Regions from separate parts of the Homo sapiens genome. Here all the other regions are linked to region 1. Evidence: fine-mapped expression QTL. A gene starts in region 1. Each other region holds a variant in brackets. All regions are shown on one strand. Distances are between the middles of the regions.

Evidence for each region.
Region 2: its variant is fine-mapped to the expression of PECR in thyroid (GTEx, PIP above 0.99). The same link has a PIP of 0.9 or more in whole blood.
Region 3: its variant is fine-mapped to the expression of PECR in whole blood (TOPMed, PIP above 0.99).

What each region holds. Positions count from the first base shown.
Region 1 is chr2:216,080,424-216,083,187 of GRCh38, reverse strand. It overlaps PECR (peroxisomal trans-2-enoyl-CoA reductase), which reads left to right and starts at 1,379. Exons shown (of 8, transcript NM_018441.6): 1 at 1,379-1,570. The coding sequence starts at 1,447. TMEM169 (transmembrane protein 169) reads right to left here and starts at 1,269. Exons shown (of 3, transcript NM_001142311.2): 1 at 1,209-1,269. RefSeq lists a silencer at 1,168-1,427 and enhancers at 1,618-1,667, 1,698-1,777.
Region 2 is chr2:216,036,102-216,038,865 of GRCh38, reverse strand. It overlaps PECR (peroxisomal trans-2-enoyl-CoA reductase), which reads left to right. Exons shown (of 8, transcript NM_018441.6): 8 at 1-478. Among named protein-coding and RNA genes, the nearest start is that of MREG, 24 kb to the right of the region's middle. The variant G/A (reference allele first, on the strand shown) is at 1,162.
Region 3 is chr2:216,028,712-216,031,475 of GRCh38, reverse strand. It overlaps a transcript of MREG not described here and a transcript of PECR not described here. Among named protein-coding and RNA genes, the nearest start is that of MREG, 17 kb to the right of the region's middle. The variant T/A (reference allele first, on the strand shown) is at 1,223.

The sequences.
Region 1 (2,764 bases):
TATCTAGCAAATGGTAACCAGGAGATTTATTCCTTTCTTTAACGAGTGTAGATTTGAATCTGTCAGCAACAAAGATAGAGGGAGAAGTGATTCTAAAAAGAGATCAGAGAAGGACAAGAGGATGGAGCAACAGGGAAGTGTAGCTGTCCAACAAGAACTGCAGCCTCGCTGGTGGGTGGGACCTGGTGGAGGAAGTGATGGTCTGATTCCTCTGTCAACCAGACCCATTTCCAATTGGCTTTGTGAATCCTAGGTGGTAGGTCCAACAAAAGGATGATGGCATTTATTTGCCTTTATATTATTTTAATACCTGTCCGGGGAAAATGCAACACTCTGACAACAGCCTTAGAAATAGCATCCCATCTGGATTGTTAAGACCACAGCAACTGGCACATTCGACCAAGTTCTTAGGGTGAAGTCTCAGTAGGCCAGTCCAGGTGTAATCTCACTCTGGTGGGTTCAGAGCGGGAAGCAAGATGAAAAATAAGGAGCAGATCTGAATAATAAATCACTGTTACTGGGCACCATAACACAGACGAGAAATTTTCCCCATCCTCAGCGGGCTCACCCTCCTGCACAAGGAATGAACTACAGGACATGATCTCAAACACCTACAGATGCATCTTGCAGGAAGCGTGCACCCTTCAAGGAAAGATCCTCTTCTGGACTCGCTATGCAGCTCAGCTGAAATGGATCAGGTCTCAAACCTGGTAAAGATGATCTTTCCCCTTGATTCTTGGGTGGGGAGTGGGAGGTGAGACGGAGGTGGGCCTGAGTTTATTTTTTCAAATCGTTTATTCTCTTGGTTCTGTGGAAAACTGCAACCGCATCTCCTCTTCCCCTTCACTCTCTTTCCCGGGCTCCCTCCCGAAGGATGAAAGGATCTGAAAGCCGCATTTCTCCCCCTCAGCTAAGCCTGCCCTTTCTCCCCTTCCCAGCCAGCGGCACACAGCACCTGGAGCCACAGCATCGCCGACGTCCGACCCCGGCAGGCGGGCGCAGCGAGGGCGCCGAGCAGCAGCCTTTCTTTTTCCAGCTGCACTGGAGATTTAATTTTAATTAATCGTGAGAGCTTCAGCCCTGAGGATTGAATTTTTGAAATAGAGCACACCCTGCTTGTTTCTTTCTTCTTCTTTTTTTTTTTTTGCATTTCCCTTCCACCCTCCCCAATGGCATCGAAATTTAAAGAAACGAACGAGCAGTCTCACCCACACCTGCCCAGGGACCGACGCTGGCGGAGGTTGCGGACAGCCGGCGGGGAGCGGTTCTGCTCCGGGAGGATGCGGCTTTGCCGCGGCCGGCGGGCGGGGCGGGGCCGGGCCGGGGAGGGTGCGGGGTTCTGGTGGTCACGTGGGCTCGAGCACCGCCCTGTCCGCCCGCCCGCCTCGAATGTCCCTGAGACCCAGAAGGGCCTGCGCTCAGCTGCTCTGGCACCCCGCTGCAGGGATGGCCTCCTGGGCTAAGGGCAGGAGCTACCTGGCGCCTGGTTTGCTGCAGGGCCAAGTGGCCATCGTCACCGGCGGGGCCACGGGCATCGGAAAAGCCATCGTGAAGGAGCTCCTGGAGCTGGGTACGTGAGCGGGCCGCTGGTGCAGAGAGGTGGCTGTGGTGACCTGGGGTAACCTGGAGACGGGAGCCAGGAGCTCTCGGCGGGGCTGAGGGAGTGTGGAGCTGCAGAGCAAAGACGGGGCAGGTGTGGGCGAAATTACGACCACCAGGGAGACAGAAGAGAGCAGCTCTTCCTAAGGAATTGTGGAGCCACTCGTTAAAAACTGAAGAGACCACTCAGGCCAAAGAGACTGTGCCCCAGGTAGGCAGTAAGAAGAGCAGTGAAACATGCTGTGCAATTAGTTTTATATTCAGATTTAAAATTAATCCATTCTATATGCTTAATGTGAGTGATTAGGAAACGTGGGAAGACTTCATTTAACTGGAAAAAGTTGTGAACATAGTGAGTCTCTCATAGTATCTTCTCACATCTCTTAACCACAGCAAGGAAATATGCTGAATATTTACCTTAACTTGGGTGAAGGAAGGCCTTTGTAAACACATAAGTGAGGGAATAAACCACAAAGGAGAACATAAATCAATCTACCTGTATGAAAGTGTAAATCCTCATTGAATTAAAAAAATATATAAAGTTTAAAGGCATATGAAGAAAAATATTTGCAACATAAGATAAATTGTTTGTTGGTTTTGAGATAGGGTCTCACTCTGTTGCCTACGCTGGTCTCGAACACCTGGGTTCAAGGGATCCTCCTGCCTTGCCTCTGAGTCCTAAAGTTTTGGGATTACAGGCTGAGCCACTAGATTCGGCCAACAGCCTTATACATAAAGAGCTCTTACAAATAAAGAAAAAATCCAACACACTGATAGAAAAATTAGACTAATGGTATGGACTAAGCGTTCCAAAAGAAGAACTACAGACAGGCAAGAAACATATGAAAAAATAATCAACTTTATTGGTAATAAAATATGAAACAGTAAGATTTAACTTTTCTAACAAAATTTTGAAATGTTGGGAAAAATTAAAGTGTTGATGCAGGAATGAGAAGGCAGGAATGTAAATTATTACAAACTTTCTGGAAGGCAATTTGGAAAAAAAGATCCAAAAACCTTCACAATGTTTATGCTCTATGACAGTAATTCCTTTTTCAGGAATTTAAGGAAACGGAGTCAAGCAAAGATTTTCATGCAAGGATGTAGTCTTGAGTAGTGAAAAAATGGAAATTACCTAAAAATCCAATATAAGGAAAATAGTTAA
Region 2 (2,764 bases), 44 kb after region 1:
GTCAGTTGAGGTCAGGAGTTCAAGACCAGGCTGGCCAACATGGTAAAACCCTGTCTCTACTGAAAAACAACAAAAACAAAAACACAAATTAGTCGGGTGTGGTGGCACACACCTGTAGTCCCAGGTACTTGGGAGGCTGAGGCAGGAGGATCGCTTGAACCCAGGAAGCAGAGGTTGCAGTGAGCTGAGATCATGCTACTGCAGTCCAGCCTGGGCTACAGAGTGAGACTGCATCTCAAAAAAAACCCAAAAAACAAAAACAAACAACAACAACAAAATTATAAAGGTAGAAAATAAACCTAAATTGTGTCGTAATTAAGATTATTAAAATTAGAATTATACAATGACTTATTTTTGGTGGCAAATACTTTAGGAGCAATAATGCCTTATGGTAATTATTGATGTATAGTTTCTTTTGTTTATGAAGTCAAATTTGTATAAATTCTCTTAATTCAAAGAAAAAGTTTTATGTGATTTATTTTTGGCAGTGCCTGATTTGTGTCTTGATTTTCTGTCCAAAGTATTCCCTTTTTTCCATGTATCTCCTTTTGTAGGCAAAAACAAAATTTCAGTTGCATGCAAATGTATTAGGGTTCCATATTCTGCCTTCCGTGGCTCCAGTCTGATAGTTAGACCCTTATTGAAGAAATGCCTTTAGCAGATTGAATATGTTCATTCTTTGTCTTAATCAAAGTTCTTTCAAGTATCTGAGGTGAAGTAGCTATTTTCTTTTTTTTATCATTAACACTCACTTTATTTATTTATTTATTTATTTATTTTTAAGATGGAGTCTCACTCTGTCACCCAGGCTGGAGTGCAGTAGCATAATCTCGGCTCACCACAACCTCCACCTCCTGGGTTCAAGTGATTCTGCTGCTTCAGCCTCCTGCGTAGCTGGGATGACAGGTGTGCACCACCACGCCCGGCCAATTTTTGTATTTTTAGTAGAGATGGTGTTTCACCATATTGGCCAGGCTGGTCTTGATCTCCTGACCTTAAGTGATCTGCCCGCTTTGGCCTCCCAAATTGCTGGGATTACAGGTGAGAGCCACCACGCCCGGCCTGTCATTTACCCTCATTTTAAAGTGTGTGAGTTACCAAGCTCTGGGGTTTGGGACCCAGAATCTGCAGCTTTCTCATGCTCCCAAGCAGGGCTAGCAC[G/A]AGGGAGAGGCTAATGAGGTGCCCAGGGTGCAGCATTTAAGGAGCTATTCTCCATTGTCAGGTTTGTGCCAGTGCAGAATTGCCCCTGAGAGTGAGTGTGTCCTTCAATTTTGTGCTCATACTAATAATGTGGGAAGATCAGAAAGCTTCATTTTCCTCCCAGATAGCCCTTTAACAGTGGCCTTCTGGAACTGATAATATCATAACAACTGAGAATTACAAACCATGTTAGAGGGAAAAGTGGCCCTAATACAGGTTGGTGGAGAAGATGGAAAAGGCAGGGCTTGCTTTCACATGACCTGTGTTAATGACTGCCATCGACTCCTTAAATCTCCATAGCGTTGCCAGTTATTTCTGCTTAAGGGACAGAACCTGCCTATGTAGCACTAAACTTAGGTACAACTGCTTATTAGAGCTTCTTCTTAGACTATCACTGGACAGCTGGTCATTATCTATATTTTTAGAATTATGAATTTATTATCCAGGACTCTTATGTACATCATAATAGTATCCTGTCAATAATGTACTTTTGCAACTACGCTTAGTAAATTTTGTTGTAGAGTGACTGTTCTTGAATAGGCTTAATAATTTGGAGCACCTACTATGTATTTAGCATTATGCTAGGAGTCAGACATGCAATGGTGAAAAAATACACATGTATCTTGTCCTTACTGAGCTTACAGTAGGGAGAGATTGAGAGAAAGAGAGAGAACACGAGTGCTATAAAGGATAAGGCCATGATGTCCACGGCATATAACTGAAAGACAGGAAACAAAATGAAAATTCTATATTTATGTAAAAAGAGTTTGTTGATAAAGATGACCCTTGTGAACATTATACCTCCCCCACACTAATCTTATGCTTTGTGGCTTATGTTCAGGTCCTCTGAAAAGCAGGTGCCCAGACATAATGAGATTTGCATGACACTTATTGGGTACCAGGCCCATGAAGGATAAGGGCAGGGAGCCAGAGAAGGCAGCGATGGCCTTCAGACCATGCTGCAAGGCTGACCCCTGTAAAAGAGAGGGGAGAGAGGATTGGGCAGGAGGCATCTCAGATTGCAGCAAAGTGATGCTTTCTTAAGACAGGCTTGCTGAAAGTATGCATTGACATTTACAGTGGCCCACAGGAATACCAGCAGGCGCTCAGTGGGTCATGTGGATTCTCTACAGTGTAAAAGTAACTCTCTCTCCTCCTGCTGGTGCCTGGACAAAGGGAGTTCAGAGATCAGTTCCAGCATCAGTCATAGTTTGTAGCTCACTGGGACCTTATGTCCCCTGGCAAGAGCCTCCCTCTTTGGCACCAGGATTTCCAGTGCTGCTATTCTCCTTAAATCCTGCAGCAGATCATTGGGAATGATGGAATGCAGGGCCACTCCCAGTTTCATCTACCGGATCCCAGACATGGTCCCAAACCTACTGGGGACATGCATCTTTGAAGACAGCAAGCACTCCATCCTGGCCCTTCAGCTGGGTCTTGGTTGTTCAAGCCCTCTATGAGGCTGGCTGCCTATGGATGGTGCGGGGTGTGGATACACAGTGGTTCCACAACCAGGGGCTCACTCTTTCGTCTCCTTCACTGGGAGGTGAGTCACCTGATTGGA
Region 3 (2,764 bases), 52 kb after region 1:
CTTTCTTTCTTTCTTTCTCTCTTTCTTTCTTTTTCTTTCTTTCTTTTCTTTCTTTCTTCCTTTCTTCCTTTCTTCCTTTCTCACTCTGTTGCCCAGGCTGCAGTGCAGTGGTACAATCTCAGCTCACTGCAACCTCTGCCTCTTGGCTTGAAGCAATTCTCCTGTCTCAGCCTCCCAAGTAGCTGGGTTTACAGGCGCCCACCACCATGCCCAGCTAATTTTTGTATTTTTAGTAGAGATGAGGTTTCACCGTGTTGGCCAGGCTGGTCTCGAACTCCTGACCTCAGGTGATCTGCCTGCCTCAGCCTCCCAAACTGCTGGGATTATAGGCGTGAACCACCATGTCTGGCCTATGCAACTCTTTCTAACGCGTTGTTACCATTTTACTTGGAGGAATGAAACAGAAGACAGATATTTCAGTGAGATACAGAGCAGATGTTTTGATGAGCAAGCAAATGAGAGAGAGAGAGCAGGGACAGAGTGTGTGTGTGTGTGTGTGTGTGTGTGTGTGTGTGTGTGAGAGAGAGAGAGAGAGAGAGAGAGAGAGAATGGGCCTCATAGTGGGCTTGTGTGTTCAAATTGGAATGCCGAAATAAATTGCCCACAGAATTAATTAAACTATGGAATCAAAACATCTGTAATCCTAGCACTTTGGAAGGCCAAGGCAGGCAGATCACCTGAGGTCAAGAGTTCAAGACCAGCCTGGCCAACATGGTGAAACCTTCTCTCTACTAAAAAAAAAAAAAGAAAGAAAGAAATACAAAAATTAGCCAGTTGTGGTGGTGCATGCTAATAATCCCAGCTACTTAGCAGGCTGAGGCACAAGAATCGCTTGAACCTGGGGGCGGAGGTTGCAGTGAGCTGAGATTGTGCCACTACACTCCAGCTTGGGTGACAGGGCGAGACCCCGTCTCAAAAAAAAAAATTGCAAAATATTTTGGGTAACAATAGCTAGCATTTATTAGGTGATTACTATATGCCTGACACTGCTAAGCCCTTTCCATGCATTATCTCATTTTAGCCTTACAAAAACTCTGTGAGGTAGTTTCATTATTACCAGCATTTTACAGTTGAGGAAACTGGCATGAACAGGTCAAGAAACTTGTTCAAGATCTCAGCACATGGCAGAAGTGGCATTGGAACCAAAGGAGTTTGGCTTCAGAGCCCCGACCCCTGCCCTGTACTGAGAGAGACAGACCAGCACCAAGGACAATGAAGAGAT[T/A]ATTTTGAAAATTTTTAATGGAATTTCTCAAACACAGGCTAAAGAGAATAGTGTAATAGTACCCATCACCCCCAATAATCTATATTTTTACAAATTTGTCTATCTGTCCCCCTTGATTTATAAGTATTTTAGAACAAATTTGAAACCTAAATCTTCTTTATAACCTTTTAACCTGTCATTTCAGAGCAAGCAGTAATTTTAAGGTGGTTGAAAATATGAATGTGAACACAAAGATGGGGCTCACAGTGGGAGACTGGTCCACCATGATAGCATATGAGAAGCCCATGTGACCACCATGAGCATGTGCACCGACCACAGGCCATAAGAGATACGACTCAGCCATAGGCTACAAACATTTGGTTTGCTTGGCATGCACATTCCTCTCTTGTAAAATGATGCATGAGACTCTCAGAGCTAAATTCATTAAACCATCTCCTTTTCCTCTGAATCCCTGTCAAAAACAAATCTAAAACTTTGATTTGCTGTGCAACTTTGCCTGAAGGGAAATACTGGACTATTCTGGCCCTAGGCATTTTCAGCCATGCTGGGAGTTTTGTGTTAGTCTAGGCTGTGTATTTCAGCTTCTGGCGAGTTTGTGAGCATGACTTAGCATCCTTGTATTTTGAGAACTCTGGAAAGAGGGATAACAAGTTTGTGTTTCTAGTTCTTCAAGCCCAAGGGCCAGCCTGGAGGCAGGGGGAGGTGCATAAGCACCTTCTGCCTTGTGTTTATCATTTTGCCTTTGTCGTCCTAACTCAGCAGCCTCAATCCTTCTTTTGAGATGGAGTCTCACTCTCTCGCCAGGCGGAGTGCAGTGGCGTGATCTCAGCTCACTGCAACCTCTACCTCCCAGGTTCAAGCAATTCGCCTGCCTCAGCCTCCTGAGTAGCTGGGACTACAGAAGCGCGCCACCACGCCCAGCTAATTTTTGTATTTTTAATAGAGACAGGGTTTCACCATGTTGGCGACGATGGTCTCAATCTCTTGACCTCGTGATCTGCCTGCCTCAGCCTCCCAAAGTGCTGGGATTACAGGCGTGAGCCACCACGCCTGGCCAGCCTCAATCCTTCTTTACATCTGCTGCCATCAAGCTGCTTTCATCCTTTTATTTTACAGGAAATTATTTATTTCCTTTTAAATAAATAAATAAAGATGAATATAACATCTTTTTTATTGTACTGGTATTTATTTTGGAATTGCTACTTGTAAGTGCTCTGGTCAGAAATTTGTGTATCTTGAGTGGTCTGCACTTAACTCCATATTCCAATGGGGGGAAAACCAAAACTGTGTCTCTCTTTTTCTCTCTCAGAGAAAAAGCCTTATTTTTTTCTTCCTTTTTATGTTCTTTTTCTTTATTGTGGTGTAACTAATATATATAACATAAATTTTGCCATTTTAATGATTTTAAGTGTGCAATTCCTACTGTTGTTATAGACAATTACAGAATTGTCTGTAATTGGTAGAATTCAAATTTCTCAAACAGCAAGATAAATTCAAATATGCATTACCTTAACACTATACAAATTCGAATTCCCAAAATCC